2 separate regions of the Homo sapiens genome follow, and region 1 is linked to region 2. A link means that fine-mapping ties the variant in region 2 to the expression of a gene that starts in the linked region. Tissue or cell type: whole blood. Region 2 holds a variant in brackets; the other region holds the start of a gene. All regions are shown on one strand. Distances are between the middles of the regions.

Evidence for each region. PIP is the estimated chance that this variant, and not a neighbour inherited with it, causes the effect.
Region 1: it holds the start of FAM114A1, and the variant in region 2 is fine-mapped to the expression of FAM114A1 in whole blood (TOPMed, PIP above 0.99).

What each region holds. Positions count from the first base shown.
Region 1 is chr4:38,865,877-38,871,028 of GRCh38, forward strand. It overlaps FAM114A1 (family with sequence similarity 114 member A1), which reads left to right and starts at 1,930. Exons shown (of 15, transcript NM_138389.4): 1 at 1,930-1,958; 2 at 2,522-2,670. MIR574 (microRNA 574) reads left to right here and starts at 2,156; the gene lies at 2,156-2,251. It also overlaps a transcript of TLR6 not described here. RefSeq lists silencers at 1,694-2,173, 2,224-2,273 and an enhancer at 2,481-3,064.
Region 2 is chr4:38,825,800-38,830,934 of GRCh38, forward strand. TLR6 (toll like receptor 6) reads right to left here. Exons shown (of 2, transcript NM_006068.5): 2 at 1-3,738. The coding sequence starts at 3,674. The coding sequence ends at 1,284. Among named protein-coding and RNA genes, the nearest start is that of TLR1, 24 kb to the left of the region's middle. The variant C/T (reference allele first, on the strand shown) is at 2,282.

The sequences.
Region 1 (5,152 bases), 40 kb after region 2:
GCCTGTAATCCCAACACTTTGGGAGGCCGAGGTGGGCAGATCACTTGAGGTCAGGAGTTCGAGACCAGCCTTGCCACCATGGCAAAACCCTGTCTCTACTGAAAACACAAAAATTAGCCGGGTGTGGTGGCACGCACCTGTAATCCCAGCTACTCAAGAGGCTGAGGCAGAAGAATCGCTTGAACCCAGGAGATGGAGATGGTGCCACTGCACTGCAGCCTAGGCCACAGATCAAGACTCTGTCCTCCTAAAAAATAAAATAAAATAAATATTCAGTAGCTTAAAAAATTATTAATATAAAAATATTTAATAAAAATATTAAATAAGAAATATAGCCAGGCACGGTGGCTCATGCCTGTAATCCCAGCACTTTGGGAGGCCGAGGTGGGTGGATCACCTGAGGTCAGGAGTTCGAGACCAGCCTGGCCAACATGGTGAAACCCCGTCTCTACTAAAAAATACAAAAATTAGCCGGGTGTGGTGGCACGCACCTGTAATCCCAGCTACTCAAGAGGCTGAGGCAGGAGAATTGCTTGAACCCAGTAAGCAGAGGCTGCAGTGAGCTGAGATCACGCCACTGCTTTCCAGCCTGGACGACAGAGCAAGACTCCATCTCAAAAAAATGAATTAATAAATTAATTAATATATATATGGAAGAAACTGGAATATAAGGAGCAAACTAATTGTCAATAGGAGAATGATTGAATGAAATATAATTACAAACATATTGCAATATATAAGACAAGTCTTAGAAGAGTGGTTTTGGTTGATATGTATTGACCAAGAAAGATGATTATAATATATAATAAATAGGGGGAAATTTACAAAATACGTCAACATCTCGCCATTTTTATAAAAAAGCAAACAAAAAGCTGTTTATGCATACATGTATTTATATAAGCTTAGAAAAACTATGGTAGGATCCACACACTATAAAAAATGGTAGTGATATTGAAAGGGAGAGACTAGGGCTATTTTTTCTTTAACTTTGAATTTATAATTCTTCAAAAAGAAGAAGGGATGGAGTGAGAGAGGAGAAAATCTGCCTTAAACACATCGCTCAGAAAGAATCACTATTTTTAAATTGTATTTCCTCCGACTTTTATAGAAAATACAAAATTGTTTACAAAACTAGTTAATACTATAAACACTGCGCTTCCTCCGCATCTGAGTTCATATTAAGCCATATTTGAGGAAGGCCTTCATATGTGGCCTTCCCTCCATGTCAACGAATCCTCATTTTTAAGGGCTACAACATATTCGATGTCTGAAGTTACTGTAGCTTACTTCACCAATCTTACTGGGGGACATTGAGATTGTCTCCGGCTTCCCCCCGCAGAAACAACTACAACAAACATCCTTGTACATACATATTTGCCCATTTGACTGCCTACTTAGGACAAATTCACAAATGTGGAATTCCTAGGCCAAAGCTAATACATCGGAGTTTTAACCCACAGCTCCAAACTGGCCTTCTGGAAAGTGGGTTTTCGTTGTTTGTTTGGGGTTTGTTTGTTTTAAATCTATCACACTCCCACCGACAGGGCAAGGGAGTGCTGCTTAACGCAGAATCAGGAGATCAAACTTTAGCTGAATTTGAGCGACCTCTTCCCAGTGACACGGCGGGGGGTTTTCCAAGCCCTTTTAAGGAAAGGAAAGGGATCTGGCGAACCCCGAGACCCACCCGCCCTGGGCTGGAGAGGCGGCGCGCTCTGGCTTTCCGCGCTGGCACAGGGGTGGGACAAGCCAAGTTTCCAGGAGACTCGCCCAGCGCGGGCCCGGCCCTCGCAGCGTGGGGGTGGCCGGGCGTCCCCGCGGCGCTCCTCGTGGGGCGGGGCGCAGGCGGGGCGGGGCCCCCTCTCCAGCCGCCCGCCCTCCGGCCGCGTCCCCGCCGGCCCTGCAGACGTGGCGGGGCGGGACCCGCTGGGCACTCCCGCGCGTACTCGGCCGCCTGAGCGGTAAGAGCCCCGGGCACTCGGTCCCCATCCCCTTCCCCGGGGGGCGGGCGAGCGCGGGGGCGGCTGCCCGGGGGTGGTGGGAACACCATACCTTGGCGCCTCGTCCGGGACCCACGAATCCTGCCCTCTGCGTTAGTGAGAAGCAGTGGTCAGGGAGGACCCGGCTCTGGGGTGAGGGTCTGGGGCGGCGCGGCCGAGGGACCTGCGTGGGTGCGGGCGTGTGAGTGTGTGTGTGTGAGTGTGTGTCGCTCCGGGTCCACGCTCATGCACACACCCACACGCCCACACTCAGGGTCTGCCCCCTCGGCCTGCGTGAACCTCCGCGGAGCCTGCCTGGATCTCCCAAAGTATCCAGTCCTGGCACCAAGCAAGTCTGGAAAAGTGCCCCCAATGGCTCGGGGCCAAGTCAGAGGTGGGCTGCAGGGTCCCCCAGCCCGGGCACGAAGGGAGCAGGTCCCTGTAAGACAGAGGCCTCGTCCCAGGGTGCGCCTGCCCTCGGCCTTGGCACAGGGAGCTCAGGCCTTGACCTCCCCGCTCCCCTCGCCTTACTCCTCCCCCAACAGCCGACCCACGCCCTGCCTGCTCTTCCAGTCCAGCCAACACTCTAAGCAGGCACCGCCTCCACTCGCAGCCCCCGGGATGGGTCCCACTCCCTACCGCAGATCCCCAGGCCCCCTCCACCCAGTCGGCTAGCCCTCGCCTCTGCCATCCGGTGAGTATTTCCAGGCACCTCAGACCAGGCGCCTGAACGTCACTGCCTTTTCTTAAGTAGGAAGACATCTCTCTATGGGCTGTGAGAGCATTACCTATGCCCTACTGATCCCATCATTTCCCATCCTAAACATCTTGAAGGACACAGGCAGGTGGCTTCTTAAATCAGTGTGCTCTGAACTCCCTGTGACCTCAGCCAACCTGTGACAACTGAGAATGAGACAGGCTCTATCCTCAGAGCCTCTTTTTGCCCTCTCTGCAGCCTAGTGGCTCCTTCCCTACCCCACCCATAGGCCTGCGTCCCCGCCCTCCTTTCTTCCATCAAGCCTGAGCTTGGGAAAGAATCTGATAAACTTCTTACATTGTAACCTTTAAGTGAAGGAATGAGACGTTAGGGATGGATTTGAGGCACAAGTGAGACAGTGCAGAAGGAATTTGAGGGTTGGAGGGGGCTTTCTTGAATCTGAGCGATTCAGACCATAAAAGTAAACTTGTCTTTGTTTATTTGACCAGGCTTACATCAAACATGGTTTCTCTTTTATTAATATCAAACACAATGTATTTCAATTCAGTAAATATCTGAGGGACAGAAACCAACCTAGGTGCTGTTGGTCACAGTCTTGGAGGACAGAATGGCAGAAGTAAATACTCCATAAATACATGGAATAGAAATCTGTGCAAAGTGCCAAAAACATAGAAGAGGTAGCAGTTATTTCATTGGAAGCAGTGGGGCAGATTAAGGAAAAATTCAGAATGAAAGGTAACATTAGACACTGGGTGTCTAGAGGAATAGGAGTTTGCCAGGCAGCTGGAGGAAGGGCAGCACCGGGGCAGAGGAACCAGCGTAAGCAAAGGCAGGGAGATGTGAAGAGTTATGGGGAATGGAGAAAAGACTGGTGAGGCAGGAGTGGAGGATACTGAGAGTTGCAAGAGGTGGAGAGAGATTGGAGCTGGATTATGATGGGAAGTGTGAAGATATTTACACCTAATGGTTTTTGAACAGGAGAGCAAATAGGTCCAAAAATGCCTGGCAGCCTCACAGAGAATAGGCTGGAGCCTGGGTACGTAGACTTGTCAAGCTTTATACAAACTCATACAAACTGCTACAACCTGATTAAGAGCCTCTCATCCAGAGTTTTTATTCCTGGTCCTTCGCTGACTGGCACTGTTTTTGTTTTTTTTTTTTAACTGGGGGAGATGACCTCACACAGGATATCATGCTAACCAAATTTTTATGCTGCCAAGTCAGGCCATTTTTTTTAAAAAAATCCATCCACTGTCACTATTTCATAAAATGAAAGACATTTTAATACCAAGAAAAAGCACAAAGGCTAAACTTGAAAGATGAAGGCAGTCCTTTACATTTAATAAATTTAGATTTATGAAAAACTTGCAATCTTGTCCTCATTTTTCTCTATCATCACAGACTTGCCCCAGTCCTGCAGGTGGAGTTTGGAAAAAAAAGCATCCAGATCAGTTTGTCCATCCTAGCTTTACAGAGGAGCAGGTGTAAGCACAGTGAGGATCAAGTTGTGTGCCCACAAAGGGATACTGGGACCAGAGGCCACATCCCTTGACGCCTGCAGGACACAACTCTTTCCACCTCAGAATACCATCGCTCCCACCTCTCATCATTCCTCCATGCAGCCTCATGTCCTGGCCTCTCAGACACCTGTCCTGAATCACTACAGTCCATCGCTGATGCTTGGACATTTGCACATGCTCTCATCCCACCAGGCCTGAATCACCACATCAAAGACACTTTCAAGATTCTCCCTTGCACAGGGTCAGTCTAGTTCAGGCACATCTGTCCTTGATTTGCTGTGCTGTTTTGCATCACTTTTTAACTGTTTTGTGTTAGCTCCTCAAACAGATGATTGATTTCTGAAGGATAGTGACCATGTCTTCTGTTTTATACTTATTTTTGGAGCTGTGATGTTGCTGCTTAAATACCTTGCATAGTTCTGGGAGCATTTTAGGTGATGAATGAATTTACTCACGAAAAACTAACTTATTCCCAGCCCACAAAGGCTTCTTTATATGCCACCCTTCCTCTCCTTAGAGTTTCCTGAAGCAGCCTCCTTGTTTCTGTGGGTTGAGTCTCCCTAGCCTCCAGTCCACGAGACATGGCTACAGTGATCAGTGTTCCTAACCATAAATCAGGAAAGGTTTCTAAGTCTGGCTTATGGAACACCCAGACGGAGATGGAAACCGTCCCAGGAAACACAGTGCTTGTCATGACTGTAATCCTGGTGGACTCCAGCAGCCCCTGCTCAGAAACAGTTCTGTATTTCAAACACACAGTTTCTAGTGGTTTCATACAAAAGGGTATAGTCTGAAAAATGATTACATTTCCCCCATCATGATAGCATCCACAGTCGATAAAGTTCTACCAGAACAACCAAACAAAAAATAATTTTTTTTCGTTTTGATTTGGGGAAAATTAGACCTGTAACAAGTAGAGATAAATATGGATTAGAGAT
Region 2 (5,135 bases):
AAATTCACATCCTTTTACCATGTCAATAATGGGAGGGCAGGTTGCTATCAGTGCTTCTCTTCTCTCATCCTGCCATTTTGGGTGCTCAAGCCAACCTTTCACCTCCTGAATTCCCCAGGGGGGAAGAACTCATCTATTCATTCAACAAATATTCATCAAGCACTTGTATTTGCCAAACACTATTTACCAGTCTCTGTGTTCCCAGTGCCCACCCTCGGACTCCAGCAAACACTCATCAAGCTCTTCCAAGAATTCTCAAGCCACACCACATCTGCTGCACTGAACCTGTGTGCTCCTGTTACTCTGCAAGCTTTCAGTCTTGGAGTGGGATGCCAGGCTACCTTCTACCATGCTGAGTCCCTCACACTTGTCTGCAAGAAATTCAAAGCAATCTCCCTATGGCCTAGAACCTCCGCTTAATGACTCTTTAATCACGCTTTTGACTCTAGTCTTCTAGAGATGGATAATACGGACTGGGAGTCATTGGTCTCTTTCTGCTCTTTTGATAAGTCCAGACTGGCTGTGTCTAGTATCATGTTGGTGCAGTTACTGTCTTTCGTCAGCTTTGAGCCTTTAGCCAGAATTCTAAGACAACCAGAAAAGTCCCATTCAATATCCAGCTGCAAATAAATTTGGCCGAGTTTTCTTGGAAAGCAGGTGGATCCACGTCTTTCACCTCAACAGCTTATGATTAAGTCCATATATCCCTTTACATACATACACTATCAAGTCATGAGTCCTCATTGGTTAATTACATATTTGTGTAGCAGGATAAAAAATTAAATAAGCTATTACACATATGTGAAACAAAAGACTTTTTTATATGCCGTAGCTGATCTAATTTTTTCCCCAAGCCCCAGACTTGAAGAGAATGATGACACTGACCCAAAGACCAATATGATTCACAGGGCACTCCGAGGACTGGTGCATATGATGCTGAAGTTGACTGTTCCCTTGCTGCCATGAAGCCATATAAACTCTTGCTCACAACAGAATCCATTTGGGAAAGCAGAGTGGAGAGGAGCTGAAAAACTGAGCATTTACTCAAAAGAGACTGTTTCAATTTGAAACATAATGATTAAACCAGAAGAGACTGGGCTGTCTCTAACTGGCAGGCTAACCTCACCGCCTAGCTCAGTTCCCCAGATGAAACATTGTTTTTGTTAAGTCTTTCCTGAAGGCATGAGGATAATGGAGGCACCTCCAGACAGTTACTTACGACTGTACTATTCACCATCATCCAAGTAAATAATGGTTTCTTAAGTTGAATTTCCTAAATTTTTTTAAGATTTCACATCATTGTTTTCAGTGACTAGTGTTAATTTCATATTAAAAGCGGCTCTAATGTTAGCCCAAAAGAGCCCACGTTTGCTTTTCTCCTTGGGCCACTGCAAATAAGTCCGCTGCGTCATGAGAGCCTTCAGCTTGTGGTACTTGTTGGGAATGCTGTTCTGTGGAATGGGTTCCAGTAAGATGAGGATTAAGTTATTAGATCCTTCATGAAAGAGATTGTGATGGGCAAAATAGAGTTCGTAATGGCACCACTCACTCTGGACAAAGTTGGGAGACAAAACAAAGATGGACTTGTAACTCTTCTCAATGCAGTTGATGATATTTTCCACAATGCTCTTGCCAGGGACAAAGTTTCTCTCATGAAGACAAATCTGTATATCTTCTTTTTCTAGGTAAGGTACCAATTCACTTTTCACCCAGGCAGAATCATGTTCACTATATGAAATAAAAGCATGAAACTGGAGGTTTCTTTGGAGTTCTTCTAAGGGTATGTTCCTGGCCCTGCGCCGAGTCTGGGTCCACTGGCACACCATCCTGAGATACCAGGGCAGATCCAAGTAGATGCAGAGGGAGGTCACAGTCACAGCCAACACCAGCATGGTGGCACCGATGGTGACGATCAGCAGAGTTATGTTGCAGGATAATTCAGACATGTGAAAGTCCTTTAGTGGGCTTCCTCTATAACTTTCTGGGTAGTCACACTTATAAGAATCAGGCCAGCCCTCTAACACTTCACTTGATACTTGGTCTATATTTTTGACAAATTCTCTTAGCTCACAGGTACATTGGAATGGATTGTCCCCTGCTTTTATTGACCTCATCTTCTGGCAGCTCTGGAAGAAATCAGCCGATGGGTGGGAAACTGAATTGTGATCAATGATCAATACAGAAAGGCTGCTAAAGCTGCCACATCCAGGAAGGTCAGTTAAAGAATTGAAAGCAACATTGAGTTCTTGCAAAGCTTCCAGTTTTACGACTTGTTTAGGAA[C/T]GCTCTTTATTTTATTGCTGTGAAGATCAAGTACCTTGATCCTGGGAGGTAAACATCTGAAAACAGAGTCAGTAAGCATATTTGAAGACAAATTTAACACCACTATACTCTCAACCCAAGTGCAGTTTTCTTTATGTCTACCAGATTCCAAAGAATTCCAGCTAACATCCAGTATTTCCAAAGAAGGCATATCCTTCGTCATGAGACCTACTTTGAAAAGGTCTTTTAATCCATTCTTTTGTAAGATAAGTGTCTCCAATTTAACTAACGTGGAACATTTTTCAAAAATACTATCTGTGAAAACGTTCTGGGTAAAGTTCAAAAACTTGAATGTGCTTGGTGCATGAGGACACAGCATGTGTATAAAAGGTGTATCTGAAATGGTTAACATCATAATGTTCATCTCAGAAAACACGGTGTACAAAGCTGTCTGTGAAAACAGAAAAACTTGGTTCGTGATATGTTCTATTGTCAATGCTTTCAATGTCGTTTTAGAATAAGTAAAATCTTCTTCACGAATGCTTTCAATTATTGTTAAATTGTAAATATTGAGATATTCCACAGGTTTGGGCCAAAGAAATTGAAAGACTCTGACCAGGCATTTCCAAGTCGTTTCTATGTGGTTGAGGGTAAAATTCAGTAAGGTTGAACCTCTGGTGAGTTCTGATAAAAATTTAATGAAAACTTGACAGTTGTCATCATTCAATTTAATATTAGTCAGTTGTAAGCACCCTAAAGTATTAACTGATATGTTCACTTGGATAGCGAATAAACTAGTTGGGTGAAAAACAAGGTGAAGGGTTTTTGCATTCAGAATTTGTAGACTTTCTGTCTCATTTTCTTTTATATAATAATTTCTTAAATCCAGAAGGATATAACTTAGATGCAAGTGAGCAATTGGCAGCAAATCTAATTTTTGCAGCTTCATAGCACTCAATCCCAAGAAATTCAGTTGTGATAAGTTGCCAAATTCCTTACAGATGGGCAGGGCCTTGAAATCATTGAATGAGAGATCTAAATGCCTGAAACTCACAATAGGATGGCAGGATATCTTTTGCAACTGATTATGAGATAAATCCAAATATTCTAAATCCTGGTTGAACTTGAAAACACTTAAATCAAGTAGCTGGATTCTGTTATGGGAAAGTCTCAAAACTGTCAACTCTGATAGAAAGCTCATGTCAGAGACCTGAAGCTCAGCGATGTAGTTCTGAGACATATCTAAGACTTTGGTTTTCAGCGGTAGGTCTTTTGGAACATGAATAAGACCTCTTTTTGACTTGTCTACTGCAAATTCATTTCCGTCGGAGAACTGGATTCTGGTTCCAACTATTATGATCATAAGGCAAACAAAATGGAAGCTTTTAACAATAGGTTCTTTGTCTTTGGTCATGATGTTGCAGTGGCTATCCTAAAGGGTTGTTCTTCTTCAGAGCATCTTGATATGAGTCCAAATTCTAGAAATATAATATACACTAAGATTAATAAAGATCGGATGGTTACTCTCAAACCTCCACTTACTAACCATAAAATCTAAATGATTTCTTCATTCACTAGTAGAGTCATTTCTGTCCCCATAATTTAATGTAATACTTTTTATAACCAGTTATATAGCTTGCTCATGCCAGAAGGGGCAATATAGGCCTTGTTATCAAAGAATTGTGGTTGTGTGTTTTGACCTGTCTGGTTGCTGCCTGAGGGATTCACACTCAGGGGCTTGCCTTTGTTTTGTACACCTTAGAACTTTCTCAGGGCTGGAACAGCCTTCTGGCTGGTGTTTGCTGTAAACAATTAAAGGCAAACATACTAGCTGCAGCCACCTGAGCAAGGGCTAACAGAGGGGGCAAGCAGCAGACACATCAAAAAGTCTGGGAAATATGCAAAGATATATGGAGAAAGATATGTGGGAGAAAAAAGGCTGAGGAAATCTCTGTATATACCAGGGAGTCCAGAAGTCCACTCACGTGCCCAAGGCTGGACGCATGTTCAGAGGAGACCTGAGAAAATCCTAAACTTCACCTCTGGCTCATCTTTAGCTTCCATGCATGCAGAAAGTGAAGGCTAAAGCAGAGCTGTGAATAGACTGGCTAAGCATTGAGAAAGTGATCCAACACAGCCAACCTGCAAAGATCAGGGGTGTTTTTGTTTTTGCTTTTGCTAGTTTATTTGGTTTTTGTTTTTGCTCCAGATGTTTAAAGAAATCTCAAGTTACTGGCTGACCACTAAGCTAACTGGACAGAAAATGTAATAGCCACACATGACAAAGAATAATCTTTATAAAAATTATTTAGAAAAGTCATTAAACAAGCAACTATAAGCCACAAGAAGCAACAATACACCCTGGGAAAGGGAGGCCCGGCACAGTGGCTTAAGCCTATAGTCCCAGAACTTGGGGAGGGCAAGGCAGGTGGATTGCTTGAGTCCAGGAGTTCAAAGCCAGCCTGCGCAACATAGTGAAACTCCATCTCTACAAAAAATACAAAACTTAGCTGGGCATGGTGGCGTGTGCCTATAGTCCCAGCTACTTGGGAGGCTGAGTGGGAGGATTGTTTGGGGCCGAGGAAGTCGAGGCTCCAATGAGCTGTGATTACACCACTGCACTCCAGCCTGGGTGACAGAATGAGACCCTGTCAAAAAATAAATAAATAAATAAATAAAACACCTCTGGGAAAGGGGGACAGAATTTGATTTCTAGAGTTACCTCATTGTAGTGTTTAAAATGTCTGATTTAAAAAAATAAAAATCAAAACAAAATAATCACTAGCCCCCAGATTTGCCAGTGGACTTGCTCTACGTTTTGCCCTGAAATAACACAAACCTTGCAAAAAGCAAATGGAAAGAGATTGTTATCTTT